Regions from separate parts of the Homo sapiens genome. Here all the other regions are reported to be linked to region 1. Evidence: microRNA targets listed by miRTarBase, many of them from high-throughput screens and not tested one by one. Region 1 holds a microRNA gene; each other region holds the end of a gene's coding sequence. Distances are between the middles of the regions.
What was found. Region 1 holds the annotated microRNA hsa-miR-5186 (AGAGAUUGGUAGAAAUCAGGU, at 3,942-3,962, shown strand). A microRNA usually pairs through its seed, bases 2 to 8, with sites in the 3' UTR of a target mRNA and lowers its output. Matches are read on the target gene's strand: a 7mer-m8 pairs with bases 2 to 8, a 7mer-A1 pairs with bases 2 to 7 and ends in A, and an 8mer does both.

Region 2: miRTarBase lists FAM168B as a target of hsa-miR-5186. Seed matches in the 3' UTR shown: 7mer-A1 at 2,954-2,960.
Region 3: miRTarBase lists SRSF6 as a target of hsa-miR-5186. Seed matches in the 3' UTR shown: 7mer-A1 at 2,268-2,274 and 7mer-A1 at 3,779-3,785.
Region 4: the mRNA of ATP13A4 is a reported target of hsa-miR-5186. Seed matches in the 3' UTR shown: 7mer-m8 at 4,277-4,283 and 7mer-m8 at 4,433-4,439.

The regions. Positions count from the first base shown.
Region 1 is chr3:151,562,866-151,569,865 of GRCh38, reverse strand. MIR5186 (microRNA 5186) reads left to right here and starts at 3,871; the gene lies at 3,871-3,990. The region is part of intron 1 of LINC02066 (long intergenic non-protein coding RNA 2066); the gene reads right to left. It also overlaps a transcript of IGSF10 not described here.
Region 2 is chr2:131,044,997-131,053,471 of GRCh38, forward strand. FAM168B (family with sequence similarity 168 member B) reads right to left here. Exons shown (of 7, transcript NM_001009993.4): 6 at 7,895-8,019; 7 at 2,880-7,456. The coding sequence ends at 7,907. It overlaps ARHGEF4 (Rho guanine nucleotide exchange factor 4), which reads left to right. Exons shown (of 14, transcript NM_001367493.1): 13 at 373-450; 14 at 1,042-2,257. The coding sequence ends at 1,193. Among named protein-coding and RNA genes, the nearest start is that of SMIM39, 14 kb to the left of the region's middle.
Region 3 is chr20:43,459,799-43,468,273 of GRCh38, forward strand. It overlaps SRSF6 (serine and arginine rich splicing factor 6), which reads left to right. Exons shown (of 6, transcript NM_006275.6): 3 at 1-97; 4 at 235-443; 5 at 717-800; 6 at 905-4,445. The coding sequence ends at 1,265. Among named protein-coding and RNA genes, the nearest start is that of SRSF6, 6.1 kb to the left of the region's middle.
Region 4 is chr3:193,395,603-193,404,077 of GRCh38, reverse strand. ATP13A4 (ATPase 13A4) reads left to right here. Exons shown (of 30, transcript NM_032279.4): 30 at 1,214-5,111. The coding sequence ends at 1,426. Among named protein-coding and RNA genes, the nearest start is that of ATP13A5, 21 kb to the right of the region's middle.

The DNA of each region.
Region 1 (7,000 bases):
AGGAGAAATACCTAATGTAAATGATGAGTTAATGGGTGCAGCAAACCAACATGGCGCATGTATACATACGTAACAAACCTGCACGCTGTGCACCTGTACTCTAGAACTTAAAGTATAATTTAAAAAAAAGATTAAAAAATAGTTATAATGCCATGATCAATTGAAAATATATTCACAAATTCTTTAATATTTCTATTATCTAGAGATGGAGTCTGTATTTCCTGCCCTTGAACCAGGGCAGGACTTTGTGGCTGCATTTTAAATCTCTAGCCTGTAGAACACATTTGTCCCTGAAAGCCAAGGCATTGCAATACCCCTACTTAAATGGTGTGACAGATTATCTCAGCACTTAGCATCACTTTTGCCCCTTTTACACTCTTTTCTGGTATCATGGGGCAGGAAGCCTGGGAACTACATTTCCTACAATCCCACCCCATCAGTTATAGTAGAGATAACAAATGAGAGGCACACAAGTGATATTCAAAAGATGGAAAGGCCGGGCACAGTGGCTCATGCCTGTAATTCTGGCACTATAGAAGGCTGAGGTGGGTGGATCTCTTAAGATCAGGGGTTCAAGACCAGCCTGGCCAACATGGCGACACCCCGTCTCTACTAAAACTACAAAACTTTGCCGGATGTGGTAGCGCATACCTGTAATCCCAGCTACTAGGGAGGCTGAGGCAGGAGAATTGCTTGAATCCAGTGGATGGAGGTTGCAGTGAGTCAAGATCTTGCCACTGCCCTCCAGCCTGCACAACAGAGCAAGATTCGGTCTCAAATTAAATACAGGTGGAAAGGAGGCAGAATGTATTGTTGCAATAGAAATGCTGGTGGCAGACTAGCAGCAGTTGCTAGGTTCGGCTACCTCAGACTTCATACTCCTCCGTTATTCTTCTTTTCGGGGGCTGTGCAATGACTGTGACGTCAACAGTAGCATTCTGCACTTTGCTGTAATCTATTGATTCCCTATATTAAGTTTCTTTCTGCTGGAAATATTTAACATAGTTTGGTTTCATGACTACACACTCTGACAAATACACCTGAGAACAGTCATAAGGGTGTCTTACCTAGTAAATGGAGCTTCAGCAGCCCATTCTTCCTTTACCAGAAAAGAGACAATCCAGTGTCTGGAAGTCAAAATTGCTAGGATACACTTTTTCTATTGCATGGGAGGGTTGGAGGGTAGTGTTGCTATACTAAAACTAAATCCTCCCCCACCATGATGTTCAAAGACTAAAGGGAGGTGGATATTTCTGACAGACATGCTATGTGCTTGAATGTCAGCTTATTACACACAGGGGTGAAGCAGGGTTTTATAAAGAAAGAGAACTCTGTGTGAGCCGTCCCTAGGGAGATATTATAAATCAAATCGTGATTCAGGCATTTCTGTGTCCTCAAGCCAAACACTATCTAGTAGTGTCCCAGACCCCATTTAAAGTCCTAACAAGAGAATTGTAATACCGATAATTAAATTCTGAAAGAAATGAGGTCATTGTTTTGTTGTCATAATAAAAGGATTTTGGTTTGCACAGTGTCTGGAGGAGGCACGTGTCCATGTGTTTTCAAGCTTTGTCCAGTAAAACAGTGTGCCTGTGACAATTAGTACTGACTTTTTACCAAACATATGCTTAGAAATAAGGATAATTTATTATAATAATCATAAATACAGGATTAAAGAGGAAAAAGTACTTTTTTTGTTCTATTGTATATGTTCTGTGGCAGTAGACTAGACAGCTAATAATTTAGACATCTGAGAGGACCACCTACCAGAACAGAGGGTCTTTACTCTTCTGACAAATAAACTAGTAGGTACCCAAAGATTGAGGCCCAGAAGAAAACAGAGAGAGAGGCTTTGTTTTAAAATGTACTGGGGTTTGTTTTGATCACTTATAGTAAGACGTGAGCCTGACAATGACTGTCATGAAGGAAGAAGGTGTTTGCACTCACAGTTCCCTAGAAATAGGAGGCACAGCAATGCAGGGAAGTCGCTTGTGGAAGCCAGGCAGGGGGCACAGGGGAAAAGCAGGGGTCAGCGCCTTTACTGCAGTTTTGTGGAAAGGAATGGGCAAGGCAGGAAAATAGGCTAAGCAGGTTTAGAATTGTCTTGTTGAATCATTTCAGCAGGCTCTGGGGTGTAGGAGCTGTTTGGAATTGTCTAGCACCTCGCCCTGGGCTGATTAGGGCAAGAAACTATTGGCCTGGAGTGGAAGGGTCCCACAGAGGTAGGGGGCTAGTTACAGTAGGCTTTGAATTGCTTAGTTTGCATATAAAAGAGACCCTCCCAGGTAACACTGTTTGATATCTGCAGGAATTAACTAATGCTGGGAGAGGCCATCCCTCCAGATCTGTGAGGCCCAAGATGCCAGAGCATCAGGAATACAGAAAATAAGAAAATAAAGTTCAAGTAGGTTTACAGTGAAAGTTTTTCTTGTTAGTTCCCAACTATACACCCTAGCACGAGTCCCAGAATTTCTACAGTCCTGGTTTACAGATGATACTCTCAGCAGAGGCAGAGTGACTAGGCTTCTCAATTTATTCATATGGATAATAAAGTGGCTCAAATAAAATGAATATTTATTATAAGGCCATAAAGCCATTTCACAAAAAATGAAGCAGAGGTGAATCTCCCAGGAATAGGAGCTGAGATCCAGGGAACCACTGAAGATAGAAGTTTCTCTCTCTTTGTCTCAACTGCATATAATCTTCCTCATCTATGATCATTGGCTACTGTCCACAGACAGGATCAAAATGCCCAGGGCCCAAGTCTACAGACCCATTTACTTCATAGGCCCACATCCATTTGACTAGAGACTCTGTGTCTCAGAAAATACATTTGCCTACAGGCTAGCCAACAGATTGACAGCCACCTGGATAGGTGTTGGTCCCTGGTCCAATCAGGGAAAAGGCTATGACATTAGACGAACTTGAACAGAGAGACTCATCTCTTCAGCAAGGGTGAGCATGGAGCTGACAGTGCTGTAGATAGGCCAGGCAGGCACCCTGAAACTACACCACCTCTGTTAGCTAAGAAATATAATTCTTCTTGACATTGAAGAAATTGCTAAAAATTGTGACAGGACTTGTGGCTGTTAACCTATTCAGAGGGAAAGATGGTAGTACCGAATGCTGCTCACTAAATATTCCCAGCTCTCTGCCCTCCGGCACATAGCACTCTATGGCTCCCAGTGGTTGGTGGAGGCCATGTAACTATTCTGGCCAATGAACTGAAAGCACAAACAATGTATGCCACTTTCCTGTTGAATGTTTATCTCTTGGCATGATTTCCTCTGAGCTCTCTTTGTCCCTGCCATGGTAGCATCCTCCTGATAGCGACTATTCTATCAGCCTGGGACCCAAAGCAGGGACAACACATGGGTTGTCAGAAGAACAAGAAGTCAACTTCCTTGTTAGCCACTGAGATTTGGAGTTTGTTATAGCATAACACAACCAATGCCAACTGGTTTAATAAATCCAAAAAGTTGTACTTATTAAGTAGAACCCAACAAATGCTATTAACTTTAATCATCCCTCAGTTCTGGGGAGAGCAGAGGAGACCTTATGCACTATCTTTTCTACTATTCATCTCAAATCTTTCCTAATCTATCATTTGTGGGGTAGGGTTTCACTTCCCTGCTTCCTAATTCATAAACTATCATGTTTATCATTATTTGGTCAGATTTCTGATTTTCTAGCTGATACCTCCCATTCTAATCCAAATTTGCTTTCTCCCCTCTGCCAGGGAGTTCTCATGACATGTAGCTAGGGCCTCACTTTGTGGCAATTTTATAAGCCTCTCATTAAACATTGGCACTGCCTCAGTTGCTTTCTGCACTGATTCTCCCAGGACTGGACCCCTGCCTACTCCCCAACTCAGCCAGCTTATGACTTGACCCTCTCACCTGATTTCTACCAACCTTTCCTCAGCTGATTTCTTTCTGGGGAGAGATTGGTAGAAATCAGGTGAGAGGGTCATGCCATAAGCTGGCTAACACTTTCATGCATTAATTAATACAGGAATCATAGCTATCATCTTAATCTATCACTCTCGTATCTATCTGATACTATGCATTAACGTTCTCAAAAGGCAAATTCCAACTAGAACAGTGTTTCTCAAATACCAATCAGTGGGCCAGAAGCAACAGAATTAGCTCAGTAACTCACTAGAACTCCAGGGTAGGTGCTTTAGTAGGTCTAAAAATATAAAGCAGAACATTTCTATGTTTGTTTGTTTTTATAACTTCCCCCAGGTGAGTCTGATGCACAAAAAAGTTTTGAACCCCTGGAACAGATCATTCTGTAGCTGCTTGAACTTCATAATTTGAACTATTTACCTCAACCTGGAGGCAGGCCTGGCTTTCTTGATCCCTTGTTTCAATTTTGACAATGTTCACCTTCTGCTCTGGCCAGGAGCTCCCAGGATGCCAGTAAACCAGACCTTACCACTCACCTCTGTATATAATGGCATCTCAAATTCCTTATTCACTTTTTGTACTTCTGGGTTACAAACATACTGGTGATTTTATATTATGATTTTTACAAATGGGTGAAATATGGTTTCTGGGCCTATAAAGTCAAGCACTAGATTCTAGATTCAAGGTCTCTCTACCAATTTGCCAAACCCCAGTGAAGTACTGCTTAAAGTTCTCAACTGGTCTTACCTCCTAACAATTGATAATTCACACAGCAATTGTCAAACCATCATATGAATTAACCAGTAAATCCCATTCTCTGCCAGTACTAGAGAGTTCTTTCAGAGTTTTTAGAGAGAAAGTATAGCATAATATAAGCCACAGATTCCAGAACCAGATTGCCTGACTGAAGTCCTAACTGCGCTGTTTATTAGCTGGTGATCTTGCACAAGTTACTTAGCTTGCCTCTGTCTCAGTTTTCTACTTCCTAGGCTTGTTACAAGAGTTAAAGGGACTGATACCTATAAGAAATCTTGTGCTTAGTATGTATTCAATGAACATTTAACCATTACCATGATTCTTACTTTTTAGTTATAGGCTATTTATTTACAACCACTTGTATATGAAACTTTCAACTGCACGCTTACCTTTGGGTACCTCTTGTAATTGATTCACCGGTAACTCACATGTCATTATGCTCTCTCATGCTAAAGCTCAGTCAGTAAGTAAATTGTTTCTTGGCCTCTAAGGACATGCATACCTCATTCAACTGCCGTAACCCAAATGCATGCAGATATCAAGCAAAGCAAACTGGTAAAAACTATGGCCAACTGGGGAACACAAACTTCATCTAAAAGGTCAGCCACTTCTCAGTCCAGCCTAATATTTCCATGCCTGAATGCAAACCCAATGCTTCCTTCTGTCTTTTCAAAAAGAAGCCAGAAATTTAGACTTTCATGGTCAATTTCCCAATTTGTAAATGTTGTCAAAGAAAAAAAGAAAGAAAGGAGGAAACAAAGAGAGGAAGGAAGGAAGGAAGGAAGGAAATAAATTCTTAAACGTCATGCTGGCCAAAACATATATGTAAGCCAATTTGATCCAAAGCTGCCAATTGGCTCCCTGTGCAATTAAAAAAAAAGTCAAATATAAAATTGAATGTGTGTACTGATGCAAAAAAGGAGTATGAAACCCGATAATATCAGCTTGGTCAAATTAAATATGCATGTAATGCCCTAAAAATATGTATTTAATACATTGTTTATTAGAACTAACATAAAGAAATTAGAAAAAATATAGCTATTTATGTTTTACTCCTAAAGCCAATGCAAGGTTTGTGGTAAAACCTGATGATGATCATCTTCTATGAAACAGAATATTCTTTTCACACTCATAACAGGAAGCGAGCAAAGATGTGTTTAGGAACATAAATGCTGGATCCAGACTGCCTGAATTTAGATCTTAGTTCTGCCTCTTGCTGGGTGAATACCCTCTGATGTCTTCATTTGGATTGCTTCCCCAACCTGTCTGTGCCTCAGTTTCCTCACCTGTGAAATGGATATAAGAACAGCACTTACCTCATAGGTAGTTCTCTGACAATTCAATGACTTAATTATTATAAAGCATTTAAAACAGTGCCTAGCATATAGTAAGCCCTATATAAATATTTGTTAAATAAATTATGGCTTTTGTTCAACCAAAATTTTACTTCCTAAATACTTATAAAATATCATAAGGCAGGCTAATATTTTTTTTAAACGCTGCAAATTCAACTACAGGAAACCAAATTCTCTCCAGTGCTTTAAACTAGAGCTAAATGTCCAAGTGAATATTACTGTTGTTGGTGACAACTCTCCAGCACTTGGATATAATTCTAACAGAAGGAAAAAATGCAAGTTGTTGTCAGGGACAATTGAGTATCTGATGGCTTGATGGCTTCTGAGGTCTCTTTTATATATCCATAAACGTGTTATTTGTCTTACTTGGCAGTGAAGCTCATGGAAAACTGAACTCTCTCCCTAGAGTCCTTAGCTTTTTATTAGATTCAGGATTTCCTGAAGCCCATTCACATACCTCAAATTAAGAAGGCCCAAGTTAGGACATTTTATTATTTTGTTATTCTAGTTAGTTGATGCCTAAAGTGTAGGCAGGATGCCCTGGGACATGAGGTGCAGAGGTACGGGCCTTAGCAAGCAGTACCAGGTAGGAGAAATGGGAAGAAAGTCACTCTCACGGTCAAGGCTGTTTATTCCCTCTCCTAGAGGGCCGCAGGGTGAGAAGATATATGGCAGACACACCTGAGAGCATTAACTCAAGCATACCCTATGAATGACCTACCGTCTAAGAAAAATGTGTGTTAGGAGTTCTGAGCTAAGGAATCCGGGAGTGGCCAACCCAGAGATTCACTCCTTCTCTATGAAGAACATATGAATCCCTGGCCCATCCCTTAGAATGCAGGTCATGCAGAGGATTGAGGCCCTATGTTTTGGGTTAAATGGAGTTTGCTAGGTGGAGGTTGCTAGGTGGAGGGGGTTAAATGAACATTTTTATATAAACTCCATGATCTTTACAAGTGGTAGCACTTTTCCTGTCCA
Region 2 (8,475 bases), not on the chromosome of region 1:
TTCCCTCCTGTCCACGGGCCCCCACATTACCCGCCACAGTGACCAGGTCGGCTCTTGGTCTGGGAAGGAGCCTCCACTGCAGTGGAAAAGACACTAGACATGGAGTGAAGGTGAGAGATGGGTGGGCAGAGGAAGGACTCGGGGATCTTCATTTTCTGCCAGGAGCCCCAGGACAGGACACCAGAGCATGCCCTCTGCCCTGGTTGGCCAAGGCAGGCTGACTGTGCAGAATGGGCAACAGTCCCCGCTGTGGCCAGTACTGAGTCCCCAGTACATGATGAGACCCTGGGCACCAGGAAGGTGCAGGTGTGCAGGGAACTGCACCTGGGGCCACGAAGTGGGGCAGCGCCCTCACCTGTGCCCCTTCCTCAGGCTTCTCCATCACTGAACTGCAGAGGAAGCAGGCCATGCTGAATGCCAGCAAGCAGCAGGTCACAGGGAAGCCCAAAGGTAGGCGGACAGCAGCCCCACCTCCTCGGCTGCCCGGTCCTTACCCTGCTGACATCATTCCCTTCTCTGAACCACAAAGCCAAGCCAGCTAGCCACCAGGCCTGAGGGGGGCCCACTGCCCTTTGCAGCTGTTTGTTCCCAAAGGTTGGTAATAAGGGGCCACTGGGGAAGCCTGGGTCAGTATATGGTTGACATTCTTACTCTCAACACCTTGGCTCCCCCAGATCAGGGCCATTGGTGACAATGCTTGTTTCCCCAGGGTTCCTTCCTGACAGGCATCTGGGGTTGGTGTAGGGATGGAGCTGCTTTCCCCATTTCTACAGAGAGCCATGCCCCTGAAACATCACATGCCTTTGCACAGGCCACCCCCCTCTTCAGGCTGCTGCAGGAGGCCAGGCCCAGGCCAGAGACCCCAGGCAGCCTGAGCTCTTGGATGTGGTCAGCTCTCCAGGAGCAAGTCCTGTGTGGCAAAACTGCCTCCTACGGCGGCTCTGAAGCAGAGCCCTGGGACGGACCCCATGCTGTCCCCAACAGCTGGGGTGGCACTCTGCCCTGGGCACCCATGACCCTCTGCTGTCTCTCCCTGTTCAGCTGTTGGCCGGCCCTGCTACCTGACGCGCCAGAAGCACCCAGCCCTGCCCAGCAACCGGCCCCAGCAGCAGGTCCTGGTGCTGGCGGAGCCCAGGCGCAAGCCATCTACCTTCTGGCACAGCATCAGCCGGCTGGCACCCTTCCGCAAGTGAACTGGTCCCTGCCTGACAGCACCTGCTGGGCCTTCCTGCCAGTGGCCCCCAGTTTTTCTTCCCCGAGGCCCACTCGGCCTGGCCTTCCTCTGCCTGCAAGTGAGCAGGGATGGGCTGGGGAGTTGCTTGTGCCACCAAGACGTGCCAGGTCTGTACTCCTGTTGTCTTTTTCCCTGCTCCTGGTGCCCTGAAGAGACCAGCAAGGGGGCAGACCCCGCACTCGCCACACCGCCGCTGCAGCTTGGGCCCCATCCGCCCTCTGGACCTGTGTAGGGCCTCACTGCTGGAGCGGGGAAACCGCAGCTCAGCCCAGGCCCAGCTGGGGAGAAGGCGCTACCTGCGTGGGACCCTCTTCTCTGGAAACCTAATCCTCCTTTCATTTCCTCTGGGCAGGACTCTCTGGCCTTCTGTGGCCTGCAATGCCAGGCCATGTGCCCCTCTGCCCTCTAGTTCTCCAAGTCCCCAGCCCGGCCAGTGGTGCCAGGCAGCTTGCCACTTGGGAGGGCAGAAGCCAGGAATTCCACACCCTTGTGTTGCGCCCGGAGCCCGCCCTTCGCCTCCCAGCCCCTCAAGACACCGCTGGCTGCTGGACACCCTCTTCACTTGTGTGTGTGTGTGTAGCGGAAAAGGACAAGACGGTGCAGTCGGCTGCATACTCCCAGTCGGGAGTGTGGTCAGTCTGCCTGCTGCTGTGCGGTAGCTCCAGAACCACCTCGTTCCTGGTTTTGTTTGGATTTTGGCATCTTGTTTTTCTAACAACAAACAATGGAGAAAAAGAATTGATTCTTAGTGACACAGAAGATTGCCTTACGCTCGTGAGCGTGAGAAGCCATAAGAGAGAGACCGAATTCTGTGGCTCAGCACACAGGACTGACCCACAGCCCAGGCAGCGGGTGTGTGGAGATGGCGCCCTGTCCTGCCAAGGGGCGCCAGGAGCAGAGCCAGGGCCTGGCGAGCTGGCGTGGAGCCCACAGGATTCAGCAGCATGGACAGTCACTCTTGCACTATTCCTTCTCCAAGCCAGAAACCACATTTAATTTCATAAATAAATTTATGAAAAGTAACCTGGCTGCTAGCCCGTTTTCTGTGGGTGTGCGTGCATTTTCCTGTGGCCAGCAGCCTCTAAAGGTGGGGTGGGGGCTCACCTGTCGCAGATCACACCCTCGGGGATTTAGTGGAGATGATAGGCTGAGGCGGGGCTGGCTGCAGTTGTTCGCCTAAGGCGAGCAGGGCCAGGCCATGCTGGTTGCTGATGGGGAATACAGGTAGCTCTGCCCTCCCTTGCACTCAAGACCCAGAAACCAGTGCTTCCCTGTGTTTGTTTGACTGGAGCTGGCCCACGTGAGTTTGGTGGGTGAGTAGTCAGTAATCTTTCTGGGCCTCAGCATCCCTGGTGAAATGAGGAAGAACGTGTCTTCCCAGGGTCTTCTGACCCTGGCCACAGAAGCCAGAAGGGGAGCATGGTGCTGCTTCCCTCCCTGTCCCACTTGGGAAAATGGTCCCCTGCAACCTGCTGCCTCCACCACACTCCAGCACTGCCAAGGTCACTGGGGCTGGACGCCATGGTGGTCTTCTTCTCAAAACCCCTGGCAATCTCCCAACTTGAGAGAAGCCCCAGCACCTCCCAGTCAGGCCATGCTACCTCTAGACAAAAACCCATATGGAGAAATCATGAAAACCACAATATGCAACACAAGTCAATCTTTATTGAAAACTGCAGTATTAATACATAACAATTCTTGTTACAATAAACGTGCTTTTGAGATTTTTAAATCTGAGCTCATCTCATCAGATTGCATAAAAAATTAAAATAGTATCAATTGACACCTAACTGAACTGGCTCAGGATGGAAATTCCATTCCTTGGCATGGATACGTAAGTTCAATGCAGAGGTGAGGGATGCCTTTAACACTGGAAGACAATGCTGACTTAGCTTAAAAAAAGTACCGAGAGAACGGTGTAAAAAACGGTATTTAAAAATCATTTTTAAAAAAACAAAAAGGAACCGTTTCTTCTTTAGTTACAATCCATGAGGCTCTCTAGGGCCTCTCCGTGTGGCCAGCACAGCAACCCTGCTAGGAGCACAAACGGCTGGCCTGAGATCTGGCCCAGCTGCCTTGCCCACTGGTCTGCACAGGGACTCATGGGCACAGCCTGTGGTGAGGAGGAGACACCTGTCATGCCAGTCCTGGGAGCACACCACCCTTCTGCAGGCCCGGGGGGGGGTCCCTACACAGACGCCGCTCATCCTCTGTCTCCCCTTCCCAAGTGACTTCACTTCAGTCCTGTGGACCAAGATAAGGCTATCCCCACAGGCTCTCTCTTCTTCAAATAATGAGTAGGAAAAAGAGACAAACTTTCTGAAACATGCAGTTTCCGACCCAAATAGGCCACATACCCCAACTTCTGTGTTACTTGGTCAGTTGAGCCCCTGGAGCCCTCAGGACCTACTGATAAAGCATGTCCTCTGCAGTATACTCAAGAGTCTGCTGCCCTTCAGAAAGCCAGAGGGAACACTCACAAATGCAGAGGTACTAGAGGGGAGAAATACGTGCTCTGCCTTCCCCCAGGCCAACCACACTCTGCTTTAGAGACCCTCTCAGAAAGCACCAGAGAGGAGGACCAGACGCTGCCACCCACCTCAAGCCACACCCCTGCCACCTGCTGCTGCGCCCAATGGAGGTCCTGTCCTGTCCGGGCAACAGCCAAACTGGCGACAATGGACACATCCAACAGTCAGCTGTCGGATAAGGTGAAGGTGGCCCAACTGCTCAGAGTAACACTGTTCTCAAATGTTTAAAAAGGACAGGTGAAGTCTGGGTCTCCTTTTTTAAAGCAGACACCAATACTTACATAACTAGTACATGTTGGCCTTTCACCAGCACTCACTGGCACTCACAGGTGCCTTACATACCTTACGGGGGCCAACACTGACAGGTATTAGTACGTCGCAAGTTGCTGTAATAATGTATTTCCTCTCGTTACTGTTGTGTCCCCCAAGACACATGCAAATTATTTCCTAGACCTCATTCATCACAGCCAGATGATGCCACCAGAAAGAGCAAGGTACTGTATGCCCAGCTGGGGAAGGGCAAGACACTCACTGACCAGGTGCCCACCCCAAGGCTCAGGACCACCCCCATTGCCTGTGAACACATTTGCATAGCACTCAAGAAGGTTTCCCAGAATAGCGACAGGTAGGCCTACAAACCACACCAAGAAGAACGTTCTTAACAGATGGCTCACGAGAGACATAAAAGGTTCTGGAAGTGCCTTCAGGCCCATTACCATGACTGGCCCTGACTCTGGCCCTCACAGAGCGGCAAGTTCATGGGTCACTGGCTCACACTAAATGCTCAGCCGCCAGCACAGATCCAAACAAGACCTCCATGAGCAGAGAAACTGCAGCGGCTGAACACACTCCCCAAGCCTCAGGGGAGAAGGTGTAGAACAAATATTTTTTAAATAGCCATCATGATGTCCATGTTTACATGAACTAGGTCCTTTGCTTACCTGCTGTCTCAACTTCTAAAAGAATAGTAATTCAGCTGAAGGACTCCCAAATTAGGAATGTCAAACACACAAAAAGCAAATTTCTCAGAATGCTCCACCATATGCTTCGGGACAAATTATGAAGCTTTGTAACAGAATTTTGACCCAAGTTCTATTTCTTAATTGACTTTAATTTTACTAGAAGCGAATGTTGATAAAATTACAACCTATGACAGTTTTGTGACTATTTCCTAAGTCCAGATTCTTACCTGATATCTACCTTTCGTATCTGACAGCTGACGTCCTAAAAATTTCAAAGTCAGAAAGATTTCTGCACGGATGTGCAATGCAAACTTATTTCATAAAGCCTCTCAACTTCATAAAAGGGAAAAAAGGTTAAGTTACAGGGAGGAAGAAAAGTGTTTATGAAGCTGATGTAAATGGCGTGTGGGGGGTGCAGCCCACTCTTTAAAACACCATCCTGTGTGTGCCAAGTACCAAGCAAGCCTGAAGAGATGCCTGTAACTTCTAACCTCCTCCTGAACCCCAAGACTCCAGCCCTCACAGGAGTTGTACATGTATGTTTCCATTTTGTTGTGTGGGGCTTTTTAAAAGCATACACTAACATTGTGAGTATTTTATCCTAATCTATTAGCACTCAATTGGGAAAAAAGACTTCTCTGCTACTTGGTCAGCTGAACCCCTGGAACCGTTAGAACCTACTAATCCTGCCAACCATCCACTAAACAGATGGAATTACCAACAGAGACTTGAAGAAAGGGGCACAAACTGTGTGCCTGCGGTAAATGTCTGCCCCCACACATAGACACTAAGATGGATTAAGTGCTCATGAAGCAATTTAAAGTACTTATCAGTAAACATTCTATGTTAATAGACATCAGGAATAAAGAATCTGCTGTTTACAATGATCCATGCAAAAATATTCCTAAACTTCTTATAAAATAAGATGTGAAAAAGAAAATTATAAGAAGTACTTACTATAAAAAATAAGGTTACCAAAGGCTCAGTGGTCAGGTGTCCCCCCACCAACCAACTGGGGCAGAATGCTAGTGGGCATCCTCACTGGGCGCCAGTGCCCTGACCCAGCTACCAGCAAATGAAGAGGAGCAGAGCCCCCTCCCCACCAGAGCCCACAGCACTCAAACCACCACTGCACTGGGAAGAAGACGCACGCTCCTGCCCTAGAGGCCGCTGAAAGGGACCCAGGCCTTACATCCCCCACCCCCACTCTGACCCTCACTGAGAACCGACATGCACTCTCATGGATACAGGACGGGCATATTTTGGGGGCGGGGTGGAGGGAAGCCTTTTCATTTCTTATGTACAAGATTCAGATCCTAAACTCAAATTCCTCTCCCACAATAAACCCTGCCAGCAAACGCACTCCAGCACTGCCTGGCCCTCTCTGCTGTCTGTGCTTGCTTTGTGCCAAGTGCCCTCAGCTGCAAAAGAGATGGCAGGAGAGGCTCGCAGACAACAGACACTGGCCTCCCCCTCGCCCCATCTCTAAGCGTCCCCTCCAGCCGGCCTCAGCAGACAAGTCACCACCATCAGGTGGGTGATCCCAGAAGCAGCTACAGGTTTCTACATTTCCAGACATATCCACGGCCCTGCCTTTCTACAAGAAATTGGAGGAATTTTAAATAAAGTTTTGTTCCCTTTTAACTCATTCTTAAATATACCACTTTCTTCATAACATACAGCTGAAACCTTTGCCCTTCTTTGTTGGGGAAAAACAGCAATGCCTACCTGTTTTCAGCTGATTCAAACATTTCTCCAGGAAAAAAAAAAAAAAAGGAATGATTTTCTAAGCTAAATAAAGCAGAGGACAATACCTCCTGCAAGCATGGCTGTTTCTCTTTCACATTTCTTCCATCCCAGGAAAATAATTTAGTTTTACATAGGACTTTTCCAATAAAGACATATAAAAACATCATCTCTCTAAGAGAACTGTAATGAAAATTTAGATAGCAGAGAAACTGCTTTGCTGACACATAAACCACCCCCCTCGCCCCAAATTTCACTGGCCACACTACCATAATCTTTCATGATGAGCTTTAAGCATGTCCCTGTTCCACTGACTCCACCAAGCCTAAACTCAAAGGGATGTCCATGAACCAGCTGCACCCAAGCAGCTGTGGCTTCCCTACTCTCTCCCAAACCTCGCAACTCCCTCCCAGGACAGTCAGTGCCAAAGAAACAGGTCGCTGAAAACTAAAATGTCCACATCCCTAACTGGCAACCCACATCAACCCCAAAAGGTTGAAGAATCATCTAAGATATTTCAGATGCTCTATGAAGAAATTCACTTTAACACTTATAACTGTAAGACTTTGCATACATTACAACAGTGCATTAGTGATACAAGTTGTAAAATACGTTTCCATTCCTTTGGATTTTGCATATGATGGTTTTGCATCAGTCACTGCAGGTAGATTGAGCAAGCTTTTTGTGTTTGTTTTTTTAAACATGCATTCAACTAGATATGATTCAGAATAGATTAATACTCCCTTTTTATCATTACAGTTAGCTAAAAAATTGCCAGGCAGTCCACAAAACAGAATTTGCTTTAAGACCAACCCACAGAGTCAGCTGGAGACTAACGGCGCTGGGGCCTGCTGGGCCGGGATATAGTCGTGTTTAGCTAAGTGTCGAGAGCATTAAGAAGAAAGTCCTGGTTGGAGGCGCAAGGCCTGCAGCACCAGCTGTGGAATCCCCAATAATGTGACTGCACAGCTCCGTCCTCAAACCTGCAGAAAGGAAGACAGACACTCAGTCACACAGAGCTCTTCCGGCACCGCTATTCCAAAATCTCAAGTAGGATGAGGCCCAGCAGGGTCGGAAAGGGCAGCAATGGGCAAAACTGCTGGACCTGGTTCTCACTTCCTTCCTAGAGACCCCCAATTGCAACTGGAGCCCTATTTCCTGTAGCAGGCAGGTGGGGGGTTAGAGCACATTCCAGGCAAGGCTCAAGATGGACAGTGTCAACAGTAGGTATTCAATGGTTCCTTCCTTCCTTCTACTCTGTAATGTCTCAATAAAAACAAAAAATTTAAACACTACATTGCCTCTGGATCCAGGGTCAGGCACACTTTCCTCGTTAGTGCTTAAATATGTGGTAAATTTGCCACTGTCCCATGGAAATGCCCTTTCATCAAAGGCTAGCCCAGCCTTCCCTGGTCACTTACATTTGCAGGTGATCACCACTGAGGGGGCACATAGCTGTAAGTGGGCGTTCCTGGGGCCCGGTACGTGGGCACAGTGACCGGGTGGGGGGCGACAGGAGTTGGGGAGTGAGCAGTCAGCAGGGTACCTGGAAGAAAGAGCAGCACATGACATGAGGCTGACCTCCTGCACAGCTCCACACTGCCTGATACGCACACAAGCCTGGCCTCTTTGCAAGGAGGAGGGTATACAGGAAGAGGGATAGTCTTGACCCAGATACTGTCAGAACTCTGATTAGATAATCCCCCACACCCAAAAGTTGTCTCCACACAGCAAGCTCCACAGACAATATGTTCGTAAAAGCCTTTTGTGTGTCCCCTTCATAAAGCACACCCAATAATTTTTATAGGTCAGATGATAAACAAATGAGTATGCTTCAGCCTTAACAAGGAAGGAGATTCTGACACATGCTACAATATAGATGAACCTTAAGAACATAATTCTGAAAGAAAGAAGCCAGTCACTAAAAGACAAATACTTAATGATTCCACTTAGATGAAGTACCTGGAGTAGTCAAATTCAGAGACAGAAAGAAAGTAGAACA
Region 3 (8,475 bases), not on the chromosome of region 1:
AACATCTGGCAGAGACAAATACGGACCACCTGTTCGTACAGAATACAGGCTTATTGTAGAAAATCTTTCTAGTCGGTGCAGTTGGCAAGATTTAAAGGTATGTTTTGTAATTCAAGATAGAAATGATATGACTAATGCTTTAAAGTAAACTCCTTTTATATTCTTATTTCTGGGAATTTATTATGGTATATAGATGTTTTAAGATTTCCGAGTCTGACCAATCTTGTCTTTCAGGATTTTATGCGACAAGCAGGTGAAGTAACCTATGCGGATGCCCACAAGGAACGAACAAATGAGGGTGTAATTGAGTTTCGCTCCTACTCTGACATGAAGCGTGCTTTGGACAAACTGGATGGCACAGAAATAAATGGCAGAAATATTAGGCTTATTGAAGATAAGCCACGCACAAGCCATAGGCGATCTTACTCTGGAAGCAGATCCAGGTAACTTGTTGAAGGACACTGTGGGAAGGAAACAATATTTGCCAATAAAAAGGGAGTAATTGAGTGATGTCAATTGTTGCCTACTTGAATTAAAGCCAGCTTTTAGTTTGTTTTGGCTGTGCATCATTGCGTTCTTTTCTGGATGTTTTGAACAGTGTATTTAATTTCGTAGTAAAGAAAAACATTATTCTTTGGCTTATCTATTTTTGCCAGATGGCACGGATGTATTTAAGTTGGATTGGGATTAAGACTTCATTGTTTTTCTCCTAATAGGTCTCGATCTAGAAGACGGTCACGAAGTAGGAGTCGCAGGAGCAGCCGCAGTAGATCTCGAAGTATCTCAAAAAGTCGCTCCCGGTAAATAACGTTGTGTTGAGTCACTGTGAATATTACCGTACTTGTTTATGGAGTATGTGTACATTCTCACTAAGTATTGAGAAAATCGGTCTTTCCTTGTCCAGTTCCAGGTCGCGGAGCAAAGGTCGATCACGTTCTCGATCAAAAGGCAGGAAATCTAGATCAAAGAGCAAATCTAAGCCCAAGTCTGATCGGGGCTCCCATTCACATTCTCGAAGCAGATCTAAGGATGAGTATGAGAAATCTCGAAGCAGGTCTCGGTCCCGATCCCCTAAAGAAAATGGAAAGGGTGATATAAAGTCAAAATCCAGATCAAGGAGCCAGTCCCGTTCCAATTCGCCGCTACCTGTTCCACCCTCAAAGGCCCGTTCTGTGTCCCCTCCACCAAAAAGAGCTACTTCAAGATCCCGTTCTAGATCTCGCTCAAAGTCAAGATCAAGGTCCAGGTCGAGTTCCAGAGATTAACTCAGAACTCCTTGTTTGCACATTATTATGGAACACTTTCCTACTTAGGCAGTTACTCTTCCATGTTTATACTTGGCCTCTTCTGCAAGAGGAATCTCTTGAAAACAGGGGCACACAGAAATTTGATTTGTGGCCAAATTGGATGAAAAAGATGAGGCTCTAAGGAAATGGTGGCATGAAGACCCTCTCCCTTCTTTGTAGAATTAAGATAACTTTGATTTTATAGCTTTTGAGCTAACGTAACTTTTGTAAAGATTAAGCTCATTTAGTGTTGTTTTTTTTTTTTTTTTTTTTTTTTTTTTTTTTTTTTTAGTATTTCAGCAGGATCTGCTGGCAGGGTTTTTTTGTTTTATTTGTTTGCTTATTTTTAAATTAACTGTTTTGAGCTTTGAATACTTAAGGCTTTAGAGGGAGAACCCAATTTTCAATTATGTTGGCTTTTTATAAAGCTTGAGTTATGTAAGATTTAAATAAAAGTTTGCTACCAAGATGATTGCCTTATTGAATAGGTCACTATTAAATTCCTTTAAATGTTGATATCTGCCATTTGTGGAAACAACGTAAATTCTACTTAAGTGTAAACAAGGCAAGCCTCAGACCAGCAATAAATTACTCAGTTTGGATAACATTATTTTGTGCAGTTAATCAAATTTGCCAAAGTCTTTATCTGCCCCTTTAACAAGTTGAGTAAAAATAAAAGGTATTTTTTAGTCAATGTGTTCCATGATTTTGCTTAAATTAATACTTTTAAGTAATGGAACTTTTTTCAAAGGCAAATTTAAACTATTTAAGAAATAGCTCCTAATACTTGGGATCTTGTTTAGAGAATCCACTTTCTGGAAGTTCTCAGCATAATTAGTGTTGAGAGTGGTTCAGTTGTCTTTAATGTTTGTCATGTGGAAATGGAAGTAGCCTCTTTTTGTTCTGAAATTGAGTTTATTCAAAGTGTAAAAGCACATACTGCATTTTCTGCTGAAAGATCATTATGTTTAACAGGCACTTAATCTCAGTAAAGTCAGTTGCCAGTTAAGTTCCACCCAGTAGTCAGTCCCCTTTGTAGTTAGTGGGATTATTTGATAATTGGTTAGATCATACTTGTAAATTTTAATGCTTTGTGTAATTGGTTTGAAAAACAGTGAAATGGGTAAACGCAAAACTTTTGTACTTTATTACGAGTAAAGTGTAATGAGTACTGTGGAAACCAAATTTGAATACTGCAAATTTGTAGGAGTTACTAGGTTAGCAATTAGTCCATACATCCATAAGCCTGATGAGTTGAAATTGCAGTTTGAGAAGTGAATTAACCTTACATCCCTTTGTTCAGATACCTTAAAAGTTACTTTATTTAAAAGCATTTATTAATCTTAGTCTGAAATCAAAATATAGATTAATTGGCTCAGCTTTAATACCTTTCTAGGAGGTGTCACAATGTAGGGTACCAAGGGTTGGATTGTGATGGGGCATGGTCGTACACTGCTCATTGTGCCACAGGTGTGACTGGAAAGCATGATATTCTAGGGTTGGTTTGTAGATTCAAATAATCCAGAAATATACCTAATAAGATTGAGTGAAAAATTTGAGTCAAATATCTAGGGCATTCACAGAGTAGCTGTGAGTTCTTGGTAATGTGAAAAAGGCCTTGTTTTTCAGAAATTCCTGGGTTTCCTGTTAAAAAATCTTAAAGCCCAACCTTAGGAATATAGTGCCCCAAAAGGCGGATGCTTCTTCCATTATCTTATTTTCTTTGATACTTTATTTAATTAGATGTTTATAAAGAAATGGGTTTATTTTTCCAGCATAAACCTCAGAATTTAAGGAAAGAAAATGATGTCTGTTGTTATAGTTCATTGTTTTGCCTACTCAGCAGAAGTGATGACTCTTAAAAATTGGCTTTGACCAAAGTTCTCTTGTTTTCAGGGAAAGAACATAAAAGCTTTTTGAACTACAGCCTTTTTAAAAGAGGGATGGGAGGATATTACAGTAAGAAATTAGGCTTTCTAAAAGTATGAAACATCCTTCAACTGGGCTCTCTTGTTAATAGGACATCATATGGTAATAGACTGGTTTGACTATATTGTTAGCTGCCACAGTAAGCAGGTCATTGTATAGGTAAATGCCTGCACCCATAATTTTCTAGTAATAGCCACGACCAATTTATTAACAGTCAGGGCCTATCCTTGCCTGTAGTTCTCAGTCACTGGATGCACAAAATCACTGTGTAACATTGGCTCACTTGGTGAGCATAGGGTTGACTGATAAAATGTTTAATTCCCTTGCTAGCTTGTGAGAAGAATGAGTTGATGACATGCTCCATACCAGTGGCTAGATGGAGTATTAAGGTGGAGCAGAAAAGAAGTGAGAACATCTTGATTCCCCTTTCTTTTACTTGATGGTGTTTATGAACATGCCGTAGTGCCTTTATGGCCAGTTTGAGTCCTGCCTACTTTGACTTTTACGTTCCCATTCCTGTGTTACCACCTTCCTCCCGATTTGTTCACCTATTTTGTGCTTTAAATCTCAATAAAATACTTACTGAGGGAAAGGCTTGTTTTGAGTTTATTGCATATGCCCACTTAGGACCAGATTCTTAACAAATGTTTTTTTGAATTGGAGTTTGCATTGGCAAGCCATTCCTGTCTTGAGTATGAGAACAGGATCTTGTGTTCACTTACCCAGAAACGTGAGTTTGGGATTTAGTATATGGTTTATGTTGGGCAACTCATTAATCACTGTGCTTCAGTGTCATCCATGAAACTAGGGATAAAACATGCATGGGATGTGAAGATTAAAAGTCAAGAATATGAACAGTACAAGAGAGTACCATAACAAATACAATTTTATTTACAAATATACATGGTTGGACCATACCTTGGAATCTACTTGCTAATGCAGCTGCTGTTAACAGTTCTTGTATCTGCTCAAGAGATTTCTATGATCATATAAAAATGCCTTTTTAGGTTTTCAGTGTTCATGCCCTGAGTAGTAGTCTGCAGTTTGCTTTAATACATGGTAATACAGAGATCGGCTTTAAATGGCTGGCTGGTTACTGTTGAATGAATGTATGATAAATTTTTTTTCAGAACCAACAGTGTGAATAATCCTTTCAGTTGTCTATCAGCATGAATTTAAAAATTACTTTCAAGATTCAACATTACACAATAAAACTTAGAGTTCTTGCAATAGAGCACCTAGTGTAGTAATTACCGATTTATATGCTAATCTTTGAGTTTCCTCAGTGACCATATTTTGAATAACAGATTAGTATCCCGAACATGTATGCATCCATTTACTGAAACGACAAGTCAGTACAATTGTGCAGTTGGTCTTCGTACATCCTATATAGCTTGTTTACATATGCCTGTTTATCTTTGAGCAATCCTGCAGATGGCCCCCAGTATAGCACTTAACACAGTCGTTAACTTTTTATTCCTTTTGAATAGAAAGGAATCATGGTTCAAAAATTAGAAGAGTGGGTGCGGTGGCTCATGCCTGTAATCCCGGCACTTTGGGAGGCCAAGACAGGAGGATCACCTGAGCTCAGGAATTCAAGACCAGCCTGGCCAACATGGTGAAACCCTGTCTCCACCAAAAATATAAAAATTAGCCAGGCATGGTGTTGCGTGCTTGTAGTCCTACTACTTGGGAGACTGAGACAGACAGAAGAATTGCTTGAACCCAGGAGGCGGAGGTTGCAGTTAGCCAAGATAACACCATGGCACTCCAGCCTGGGCGACAGAGTGAAACCCTGTCTCAAAAAAAATTTTTTTTCAATGTGTTTTCTGGGAACAGGGCCATTATCTTCTGTAACTACAGAATTATCAAAATCAGGAAATTAACTGATAAAATACTGTTGTCTGATACACAGTTCATACCGAAGTTTCATCAGTTGTCCCTTAATGTCCCTTACATTTTTTCTCTTGGTCCAAGATTCATTGGTTGCATTTTGTTGTCATGGTTCTTGAGTCTCTAAATCTCTAATGCATCCTCAGGCTTTTTCTTCATGTTACTTTTTGAAGAGGAGTTAATATACCTAGCCTCCAGTTAGCCTCCTCTCCCTCAAAATTATTTTAAAAAATGACTTAATAGTGATCCAGGTTATTAACATGGGTCACTGGACATAATACATCGAGGACAGAGTCTCATTCTTGTGATATTCCTGCCCAAAATGCTGTCATGTAGAAACGAGACAAATCCAAGATGAGGGCAAAACCTACAAAATAAACTTTTCTTCCCCCCACGAGACAGAGTTTAACTATTGTTACCCAGGCTGGAGTGCGATGGTGCAATCTCAGCTCACCACAACCTCCACCTCCTGGGCTGAAGCTATTCACCTCCCTCAACCTCCCGAGTAGCTGGGATTACAGGCATGTGCCACCACGCCCAGCTAAGATTGTATTTTTTTAATAGAGGCAGGGTTTCTCCATGTTGGTCAGGCTGATCTCGAACTCCTGACCTCAGGTGATCCCCCGCCTCGGCCTCCCAAAGTGCTGGGACTACAGGTGTGAGCTACCTTGCCTGGCCTTCTACCATAAAGGAATTGCTTTGGAGGGGTGGCGGGGAGGAGGGGGCAGGTACACTATATGGGTTTTCTTTAGGTTTTCTGTTTTTTAAGAGATGGAGTCTCACTCTGTTACCCAGGCTGGAGTGCAGTGGTGCAATCATGGGCCCAAGCGATGCTCCCACCTCAGTCTCCCAAATTGCCGAGACAAGTGTGCACCACCACACCCAGCTAAGGGAGTAGACTTTTAAAGGTAAGGTTTAAAGAAGGTGGTTTTTTATTTTTGTCTTTAGGAGGGAACCAATTTGGAGATTAAGAGCTGCTGAAGGCAAAGCTTTGATGGCATCAGATAGAACCCCCATTACTGCTGAAAGCAGAGCAAGTCCCCTAGCCCAAGGCCAAAAGGATTGGGAGGCAAATAAGTTGCACCCTCATCTATAAAACAAGACCTGCTAATATTGTGAAAAGTAAATACTATTATCAAAGCATTTGGCATAGTCACTCATTAAATAGTAACTGCATTTAGGAAAACATTCTGAAATAGAAGAGCTAAACTCTCCGGGTGTGATGGCTCATTCCTGTAAAGGAGGCCAAGGCAGGCAGATCACTTGAGATCAGCAGTTGGAGACCAGCCTGGCTAACATGGTGAAACCCCATCTCTACTAATAATACAAAAAGCTGGGCGTGGTGGCGCAGGCCTGTAATCCCCGCTACCCTGGAGACCAAGGCAAAAGAAACGCCTGAACCTAGGAGGGGGGTTTACAGTGAGCAGAGACTGCACCACTGTACTCCAGCCTGAGCAACAGAGCAAGACTCTGTCTCAAAAAAAGAAAAAAAAATAGCTAAACTCTAATAATACTGTTCTAACCAACTTGAGAAAAAGGCAAAACAAAGATGCCAAACGTGGAATGTGGTGCCCAAGTATTAAAGTATCTACTATCCCTACTTTTTCGTCCTTCATGAGCAGCCCGAGTGTACTAAACACATTACTGTTACTTTTGTCATACAAAGTTTCAAACACCAGTGAGAATAGTGGAATGAACCACCCTTGTGCTCCTCTAGCTTTAACAATGTATACCTGTCTACTTCCTCTCCCAAATAATTTTGAAGGAAATCCTAGACATTTTATCTGTAGATGCACTATATAGCTCTTTAAAGACATCTAAACTCTCTTTAAATCTAGAGTCTCTTTGTCCCCTTGCAGTGTGTTTATTGGAGAAGCTAAGTCATTGTCCTGGAGAGTTTCCCAGTCTTGATTTTGCTGATTGCAATCTCATGGCGTCATTAAGTGTATTCTCCTGTATGCTGCATTTCCTGTAAATTAATAGACCTAGAGAAAGCGGGTGTGTGTGTGTGTGTGTGTGTGTGTGTGTGTGTGTGTGAAGGGTCTCACTGTATCACCCAGGTTAGAGTTGCAGTGTTACAATCAGCTCACGCAACTTCTGCCTCCTGGGCTCCAGCGATCGTCCCACCTCAGCCTCCTGAGTAGCTGCCACCATGCCCAGCTAATTTTTTCTCTTTTTGGTAGAGACGGGGTTTCACCATGTTGCCCAGGCTTGTCTCAAACTCCTGACCTCAAGCGATCCTCCCACCTTGGCCTCCCAAAGTGCTGGGATTACAGGCATGAGCCACTGCACCCAGCAAGAAGTGTGGTTCTGCCAAGGCACAGTGGCTCACGCCTGTAATTCCAACACTCTGGGAGGATCCTTTGAGCCCAGGAGTTTGAGACCAGCCTGGGCAACATAGTGAGACCCCATCTCTACAAAAAAATTAAAAATCAGACTGATGCTGCCCACCTGTCCCATCTGCTCAGGAGGCTGAGGTGGGAGGATCACTTGAGCCCAGGAGGTTAAGGCTGCATTGAGCCAATCATGCCTCTGCACTCTAACCTGGGTGACAGAGCAAGACCCTGTCTTAAAAAAAAAAAAAAAAAAAAAAACATGGTTCCCAACCAGCAGCATCAAAATCATCTCCGATGTTAGATGTTACAAATACAGTCTTCACCCCAGACTCTGAATCAAAAACTGTGGATAGAGTCAGGCACAGAAAGACAAACTTCACATGTTCTCACATATTTGTGGGAGCTAAAAATCAAAACAGTTGAATTCCTGGAAATAGTAAAAGGATGGTTATGAGAGGCTGGGAAGGGGTAGTAAGGGGGTGAGGGGTAGGTAGGGATGGTTAATGGGTCCAAAAAAGAATAAAATATAGTATGTGATAGCACACAGGGTGACTATAGTCTGTAATTTAATTGTACATTTTAAAATAAAGACTATATAACTGGATTGTTTGTAACATTAAGGATAAATGCTTGAGGGTATGTCTGTGTAGTGTGGGTAATTAAAAAGAAAAAATAAAAATACAAAAAAATGCTTGAGAGGATGAATACCCCATTTTCCATGTTGCGATTGTTACACATTGCATGTCTGTATCAAAGTATCTCATTTACTTTATGAATATATACACCTACTATGTACCCACAACAATTTTTTTTTTTTTTTTGAGATAGAGTATCGCTCTGTTGGCCCAGCCAACTTTTTTTTTAAACAAATAAATTAAAACTCTGGGCCGGGCACAGTGGCTCACTCCTATAATCCCAGCACTTTGGTAGGCCGAGGCAGGTGGATCACCTGAGGTCAGGAGTTCGAGACCAGCCTGAGCAAGGTCGTGAAACCCCACCTCTACTAAAAATACAAAAATTAGCCGGGCATG
Region 4 (8,475 bases), 42 Mb from region 1:
CCAAGAGGCTGAGACGGTTATATGGATCTTTAACAGCCCCGCAGCCAGCAGATGGTCAGTTATCACAGGAATAATGCAGACTGGCTGTTCTCTATCCTTTCATGGGCAGTGGAACCTAAATGGCAAAAATGGGTAGATTTTAGGAAAACTACTATATCTGGCAAAGTTCCTTATAGAATCTCACAGAATTAACTCTTTCAAATTAGCAAAGATAGACATGAAAATCAGTTCTAATTCTGTGGGACAGTTTCACGTCCCATATTTTTTCTTTGTTTCTTTCACAATAACCTCTAAGATGGTCAATCTTTGTGAGCAAACATGATAAAAGTGGAAAATTAATATGATAACCTCTCATGAATTATAAGTTATAACTTGGGCTCTATTCAAGGCTCACTCTAACTCATGAAATAAAATGGCATTGCAAAATGTTTTCAAAGAGACATGTCTTTTGTAATCTTAATACTGTATTTCAGTGAAGGTGAAGGTTAGAGGCATGTGTGAACAGGACCACAGTGCATAGCCATTTGTTAAATGAGTAGTTCCAAAGGGTAGGCAAAGGGAGAGAGCTATGCCCTGCCCTGCCCTGCATTGTAAAGGGAGTTATATAAGCCTTACAACAAACATAAGGAAGGGATTATTCTAATCACGGAGACATGGATAGAGTAACTAATTTGCCCATAATAGGTGTCAGAACTGGGACCTAAATCCAGATCTGTTCAACTCCAAGACTGGCCCGTGTGAAATTAAATATGCAGTGATATGTCAGGATATATCAAAAACATGTCATACATGGGCCACATCTTTATATAGGGTCAATTGTGTTTAGTATTTAGTAGTAATTTTAATGTCATTTTATATTAAACAAAATATAGATGTGCTATAGAGTGAAACATAGAATTTGAATGATTTTAAATTCAATTTAGATGTGAGATTCAAAAGAAACTTCATTTTTGAGGCAAGCCATTTCAAGTTATGTTCCCAGAGTCTTGAAATGTTGTACCTCTTACTTCTCCCACAGGAGTTACTTAAGTAGAAACGTTTGAGAAACCAATACCTGTCCAATGAAACCACCTTAGATTGGTCCAGTGGTCAAGCTCTTTGTCAAGCTGGATCTAAGCAACCATTGCAGTAGTGACTTATGATGGCCTGTGGAGGGCTGTAGCCTCAAAACACTCAACCCTTGCTTGTAAAAAGTAATTATTTTATTTTGCAGGAGGCTGTTATTGAAAATCGAGCCCTGTGGATGATGATTAAAAGATGTTTCGGCTATCAGTCAAAAAGCCAGTATCGGATATGGCAGAGGGACTTGGCAAATGACCCTAGTTGGCCCCCGCTAAACCAAACCTCCCACTCTGACATGCCGGAGTGTGGCAGAGGAGTGTCTTACAGCAATCCAGTATTTGAGAGCAATGAAGAACAACTCTGAAGGACATGTGATATCCAAGTTGATATTACAGAGAAACAATGACAAAAGGGACCAGTTTCATTGATTTTAAGAAATGAGACTCTTGTAACATCAGCTGGAGTTTTGGGGCTACCTATCAAATCATGGTGACAAACTAAAGTCTGTTTGATAAAATACTGTCTACAGAGAAGAACATTGACCCAGAAGAGTGCTTTCCTCTTGGCTTCTGAAGGTATTAGAGGCATTCAGTGAAGGCAAGAATGGGCCAAGAATTTCTATGGGCCAAGAGACAAGCAGGCTAAAGGGGAAAAATATGTGATCTTTCCTCTTAGGACAGGACAATACTTTCCTTTTTATAAAAATGAGTTGAGGGGAAGTAGTACTGTGTATACTCACGGAGTTGTAATTTTTGAATTTTTACTTCATCGATGGAAAAACTAATGCGTGGGAAACATTACACCAATCTTTACTGTCTGGGTTCCTTTTCTCTGTAGTACTTTTCAGATTTGAGGCTTTTTCTTCTGTTTCTGGCCTTACCCAACATATTGTTAAGGATAAGCTTAGCCTATGCTGCAATAAAAAACAACTCTCAGATATCAGTGCCTTAACACACAAGTGCTTCTTTCGTGATCCAGGTGACACTCTGGAACTGCCATTCTTACAGCAGTGACTGCTTCAACCTGATGGCTCCATCAGCTCGATGCAAGGACTGTGTGTTGACTGTGATGGGGGAAGGAATAGACTGGAGATCACGTGTGGGCTCTTCACTGCCTCACCCCAAAAGTGGCACACATTGCTTTCCCTACTCATATCTCATTAGTCAAGGATTTGGCCAGGGAGCTGGAAAGTGCAGTCTCCTGTGTTTAGGGATGCTTCATGGGCTTATGAGCTGTCACTACACAGGGCCCCATGCTTAGAAGGTCCCCACACTTGGCTTTAACACTCTGCTGTTTCCATCTTAAAATTCTTAATTTTTGAACAGGGGTCCCCATATTTTCATTTTGTACCAGGCCCCACAAATGATAGAGTTGGTCTGGAACGTAGTCCTGGGAAGGAGAGGAAAATAACAGATCAGAAAGCACGAGTGCTGTCCACTACAGCCCACTTTTCCTAACCCCAGTAACTTATCCTATGTTTTAGGAATCTCTCATGTCACATGGCCAACTCCAGAAATTTTCACTCCTCTGCTTTATTATTTTTGAGAAACATTAGTCTCATGCTACAGCATTATATGGCACTATTGATGGGAGTTCTTACACAACTAGTACATTTTTTTTTTAAAGTTTGTGGCTTGAGTTTCCAGAAAACTAAAATTGTCCTTATTTTGTCACTATTACAATTTGGTTATATTTGATTTGTTCAGCACAAGGAAGACTCAGGTTTCTGTTACCTCAGGAGACAACACTGAACTCTAGGAGCACACCTACATATAATATTTTAAGGCAAAAGCAAAATTTGTATTATGAGCATCAAATCCTAGGTGAATGTTCTGATCAGGGGATAAGTGTCCTGGCCCAGGCTGGCTTTGGAACTTATCAATAGCATTTGCAAGCATTCCTTCCCCCTAACTGAGCTCTTGAGCATGGCTGATGGCTCTATGATTGCAGCTGATTCTAGGAACATGGTGTCTCCCAGCCATGAGGGTACCCTGTTACTTCTGGTTTTAAAATAGGGCGTGAAGATATTTTAGTGTTTCAAGACTGCAGAATCACTGTCTTTTTTGGTACAGAAAGAAATGTTTCCTTTTGCAAAGCCAGCCTCAGCAATGATATGGCAGTTCTGAATGTCCTTCTCTAAAAGTGTTTCTCATTTTCCAAAAGTAGAGGGTTGTAGGCAGGGGCAAGCTAGAGATGGTCTGTGACCTAGTCATGAGCAAGATCAGCCTGCACAGTTCATACTTAAATGTGCCCTTTGCTAAGTGCATTCACCTCCACTAACTCACCTGAATGGTACCAATTGTCCCATGACTGAACAAGGAAGGGCTTATCATCTCCACCATACAGATGAGAAAGCTGAGATTCAGTAATGGCAAGAGCAGATCTAGGCCTCAAATACAGATCTTCTGAGCAAACCTTATATTGCTGCCAAATACTTCCAAATTCCAGAGTTCCAGCAGGGCAGGTTGCTTAGTGTGATCTCACAGTCAAGCAAAGAATGGGCAACCCTTTGCTAATACCAGGCCCTCTGTTCAAATGAATGCCAGGCATCCTGCCAGGCCTGGGCTAGAGGTGTATTAAAAACAAAACAAAACAAAACAAAAAAATGATTGTCTGTCTTTCTGAGACTTTGAGTTGCTCTTGCCTTGATCCTAAGTGATTCTATCACTAGCAAAGGCTGGCAGGGAACAGGAAGAAAAGAATCTAGTCCTCCACTAGTCAAGCAGCCATAAAATCTTTGGGAAAAGAGACTCATTTTGAAGACTGTATTCCTGGGATTAACTACATCTTAGAAGCAGTAATTGAAGGAACAGGGAGTGCCCAGCCTGGAAAGAAAACAGTCAGGGGACTGTGAAGGGTTTTCCTGAGAAAGAAGGATCCTACTTGTGCCAGGTGGCATGAGAAGGCAAAATCAGGACAAATGGGTAAAGATCACAGTGGGGATGGCTTCAGGCCATCTGCCCTAACCACTGTCCTAACAGCCAGCACTGATAGCAGTGGAATGTACTCTAGGACATTGGAGGAACAAGTGGCTATTCAAGGGCCAAGTAGAGAAGGAAGTCAAGTATCAGATGAAACTCAATTACCTGCAAGATCTCTTTCAAGCTTGATACACCCAGTGTCTCAGTCTTATGCTGTGATGTGAACCTTTTTTTTTTTTTTTTTTTTTTGAGATGGAGTCTCACTCTGTTGCCCAGGCTAGAGTGCAGTGGCACAATCTCGGCTCACTGCCAGCTCCGCCTCCCGGATTCACACCATTCTCCTGCCTCAGCCTCCCAAGTAGCTGGGACTACAGGTCTGCCACCATGCCCGGCTAATTTTTTGTATTTTTAGTAGAGATGGGGTTTCATCATGTTAGCCAGGGTGGTTTCAATCTCCTGACCTCGTGATCCGCCCGCCTCGGCCTCCCAAAGTGCCGGGATTACAGACATGAGCCACCAGATGTGAACTATTTTCTACTACTACCCACACAGAATACCAGACAGACACTCATGGGAGGATGGGCTCTGGAGGGAGGGCTCCCAGCCTTGTCAGATCCGATTGTGTGGACATATAGACTCAATTGCCCTGTACCTTGAAAGGGGACCCCTAATGGAGATAAGATCCTAGGAAAGAGGGGCAGAGTAGGGGTCCTGATTGTCAGATTGAAGCTGGGGTAATACTTCTGATTTGTGAATTTTCTTAAAGAGAGGTGTTAAAAAACTTTGCATGAAAGAGCGTGGGAGAGTGCCCTAAACTTGAGGGCGGAGCAACCTGTTATCAATACACTTTCTTGAGCAGAGTCTGAAGGAGAAACGAACACAGTCACATAGTCCAAATCATTTGAGACGGTGCCCTGTATGTTCATCTCAAGGCATCTAGCTCTTACCCACAGAGAACCGTGACTCTGGGCTTCCCTCACTAAATATGTCTGTGACATCTGTATCCTTATGTGCTTATGGAAATGTTCACATACACACCTGCAGATGTGATGACTGAAAAAAACGATTATTTATTCAGAGCTTTGTATTTAGTTTATGCTATAATAAATTCAGTTGTTATAAAAATCAGTCTCTCTCTCTGCGGTGGAGTCTTTCATTCTGTCTAATGGTGTGGTTTACTCCAGTAATGTTGAATCAAACAACATCTTTACAAAGTTCCAGGCATTTTCTAACACCACAGATGCTATTATTCTCTGCTTTATACACAGGGCATTAGAGTTTACAAAATACTTTCATCCTTGTTCTCTCATTTAAGCCTCGTTAACAACCTTAGGAGGAAAGAAAGGCAAGGATTACTGTCTCTCTTCTTTTGATGAGGTACAAGGCTCTCCAGATGTCTCAGCAACCAGGACACATGGCCCATGGATGGAGGAGCTGGATTCAGATGCAGGTCCTTTATCAGCGAGATCCCTGCTGTGTCACTCTCCTATGTTGTTTTTCCTGAATGAAAAAAGAAGAGAAAAACCGTAGCATTGAAAAACAAGACGACAGCGAGGCAAATGTCCAATGTAATTGCCATAATGAGCACAGTTTCTTCCAGAAAGAGATTTTGGTGTTTCATGGAAGTTCTCTTGAACCTGACCATCAATCACAGAAAAGGCCAACTCCCACAGCTGAGGGAGGAAAATCATAACACCAGAGCCCTGTGAGCCCATTTCATGTGATTGGATAAAGCTCTGGTTTCTGACTTCAGTCTCCAGAAACAGAAAACTATATCCCTGCTTGATCTTTATTCAGACTTGCTTGGCACAGCTTTTCAGGTTCCTATAGATTTTCTTTTGGCTTTGAACTGTGCTCACTTCTCTATGCATAAACATTTGGAAAACTGCTGCCCTATAACATTCTGTCTGCCCTTTGGTTTCCATTAGACTTGTTAACAATGGCCTTTAAACTTTATTAGTAAAGTGAGTTTCTCCAAAATTAAACAAAGATAAAATTAACAACAAAACACAACTCTCCCGGAGTTGATGAAAGAGCCTTAGGAGTGAGCCACATGGCTTTGTCAAACACTCTGAGCTTGCTCTATCCTCAGGAAGACTGCATTTGCCATCCTCTCTGCCTTGAATGCTGCCCGCCACCAACCCCCTGTTGCCATTCCTGATTCCTTCTCCTTCAGATTTCAGCTCACTTGTCACTTCTTCCAAGAAGCCTTCCCTGACCACTCTGTCTAATGTTGCTCTTGCTCTACTACCGTGGTTTGTTTTCTGCATAATGCCTGTGCCACCCTTCAGATGACCAAGGCTGAACGAGTACTACTTGTTCAAGAACCCATAATGGGGAAATGAATGAGCTGAGTCTATAATCTAGACCTACTGACTTCCAAATCAAGGTTCTTTACATTTTTCACATCTAGCCAGATTCTGCTAATTAAATTAGCTAATCTGTCAGGGAAAAGAATGCAGGATGCTGCAGAGCATTGTCCATGGTTGGATGAAAAGCACTCAAAGAGTCATCCAGACTCTCCCAGCTCTTTTCCTTGCTGTCTTGACTTCGAAGTGTTTCAATGCCAAGAAAAATCTGATAAGTCACTGACCTGTGATAAAGGCTGCACACATACTTACCGTGGACATTCTGCTGAGTTTAAAATTGTGGTTAAAGGGGGTTACACTGCAGAGAGGTCTCACATGTGTTGTACGTATTTCACACTGTACAGTCCTAGGAGGCACCATTCATATTGTGCTGCAAGCCCAGGGTGATGGTTTTGCATCATATCGAGGAAGTTTTGTGGGTAAATGATGGCTTTTACCTTTGTAATTACAAACACATATATGCAATGAAAAGTCCCACCTGGGCCTGCTACAAGCAATTCCTAAGTCCTAGACCCTCTCTTGGCAGTGTCTCTTGTGCAGAACTTCCTCTCCTCTAAGCCCTTGGTTGTCACCACCTGCCTGATTACAAGAGCCTCTTAAGTAGTCTCCCTGACTGAGATCTTTCTTCTATTTTTTCTTCTCGAAGTCTCTATCTATTCTATTGCACAACTCTGATGATGTCATGTCCATGGCCAGAAACCCTTAATGGTCTGAAGTGTCTACCAGATAAAGTACACATTGCTTACTAAGGATTTCAAGTCCTTCTCCACTGGCCACATCTGGTTTCATCTCAGATCTTTTCCCTTATTGCCTTCTCTACTTCAGCAAACTGAATTTCCTATTACTCTCAGCACTCAGTCCTCACTTTCCCACCTCAATAGCTGATATGGTTTGGCTCTGTGTCCCCACCCAAATCTCACCTTGAAGTGTAATCCTCATGTGTCAAGGGTGGGACCACGTAGAGGTAATTGGATCATGGGGGCAGTTTCCCTCATGCTGTTCTTGTGACAGTGAGTGAGTCTCATGAGATCTGATGGTTTTATAAGTGTCTGGCATTTCTCCTGCTGGCACTCACTCCATCGTGCTGCCCTGTGAAGAAGGTGCCTGCAGCTGGGTGCGGTGGCTCATGTCTGTAATCCCAGCACTTTAGGAGGCCAAGGCGGGTGGATCATCTGAAGTCAGGAGTTCAAAACCAGCCTGGCCAATATGGCAAAACCCCGTCTCCACTAAAAATACAAACATTAGCTGGGCATGAAGGCGCCTGTAGTCCCAGATGCTTAGGAGGCTGGGACAGGAGAATTGCTTCAAGCCAGGAGGCAGAGGTTGCAGTGAGCTGAGATCTGCCACTGCACTCCAGCCTGGGCAACAGAGTGAGACTCTGTCTCAAAAAAAAAAAAAAAAGTGCATCCTTTACCTTCTGCCATGATTGTAAGTTTCCTGAGGCCTCCCCAGCAATGTGGAACTGTAAGTCAGCTAAATCCCTTTCTTTTATAAGTTACCCAGTCTCAGGTATTTCTTCATAGCAGTGTGAGAACAAACTACTACAGTAAATTGGTACCGAAATGGTAGGGCGCTACTATAAGGATACCTGAAAATGTGGAAGCAATTTTGGAACTGAGTAACAGGCAGAGGGTGGAACAGTTTGGAGGGCTCAGAAGAAGACAGCAAGATGTGGGAAAGTTTGGAACTTTCTAGAGACCTGTTGAATGGTTGTCACCAAAATGATGATAGTAATATGGACAATGAAGTCCAGGCTGAGGTGGTCTTAGCTGGAGATGAGGAACTTCTTGGGAACTAGAGCAAAGGTGACTCTTGGTATGCTTTAGCAAAGAGACTGGTTGGCATTTTGCCCCTGCCCTAGAGATCTGTGGAGCTTTGAACTTGAGAGAAAAATGATTTAGGATATCTGGCAGAAGAACTGTCTAAGCAGCAAAGCATTCAAGAGAAAGCAGAGTGTAAAATTTTGGAAAATTTGCAGGCTGATGATGCAATAGAAAAGAAAAACCAATTTTCTGGGAAGAAATTCAAGCCTACTACAGCAATTTGCCATAAGTAACAAGGAGCTGAATGTTAATCACCAAGACAATGGGAAAATGTCTCCATGGCATGTCCATGGGGAAAAT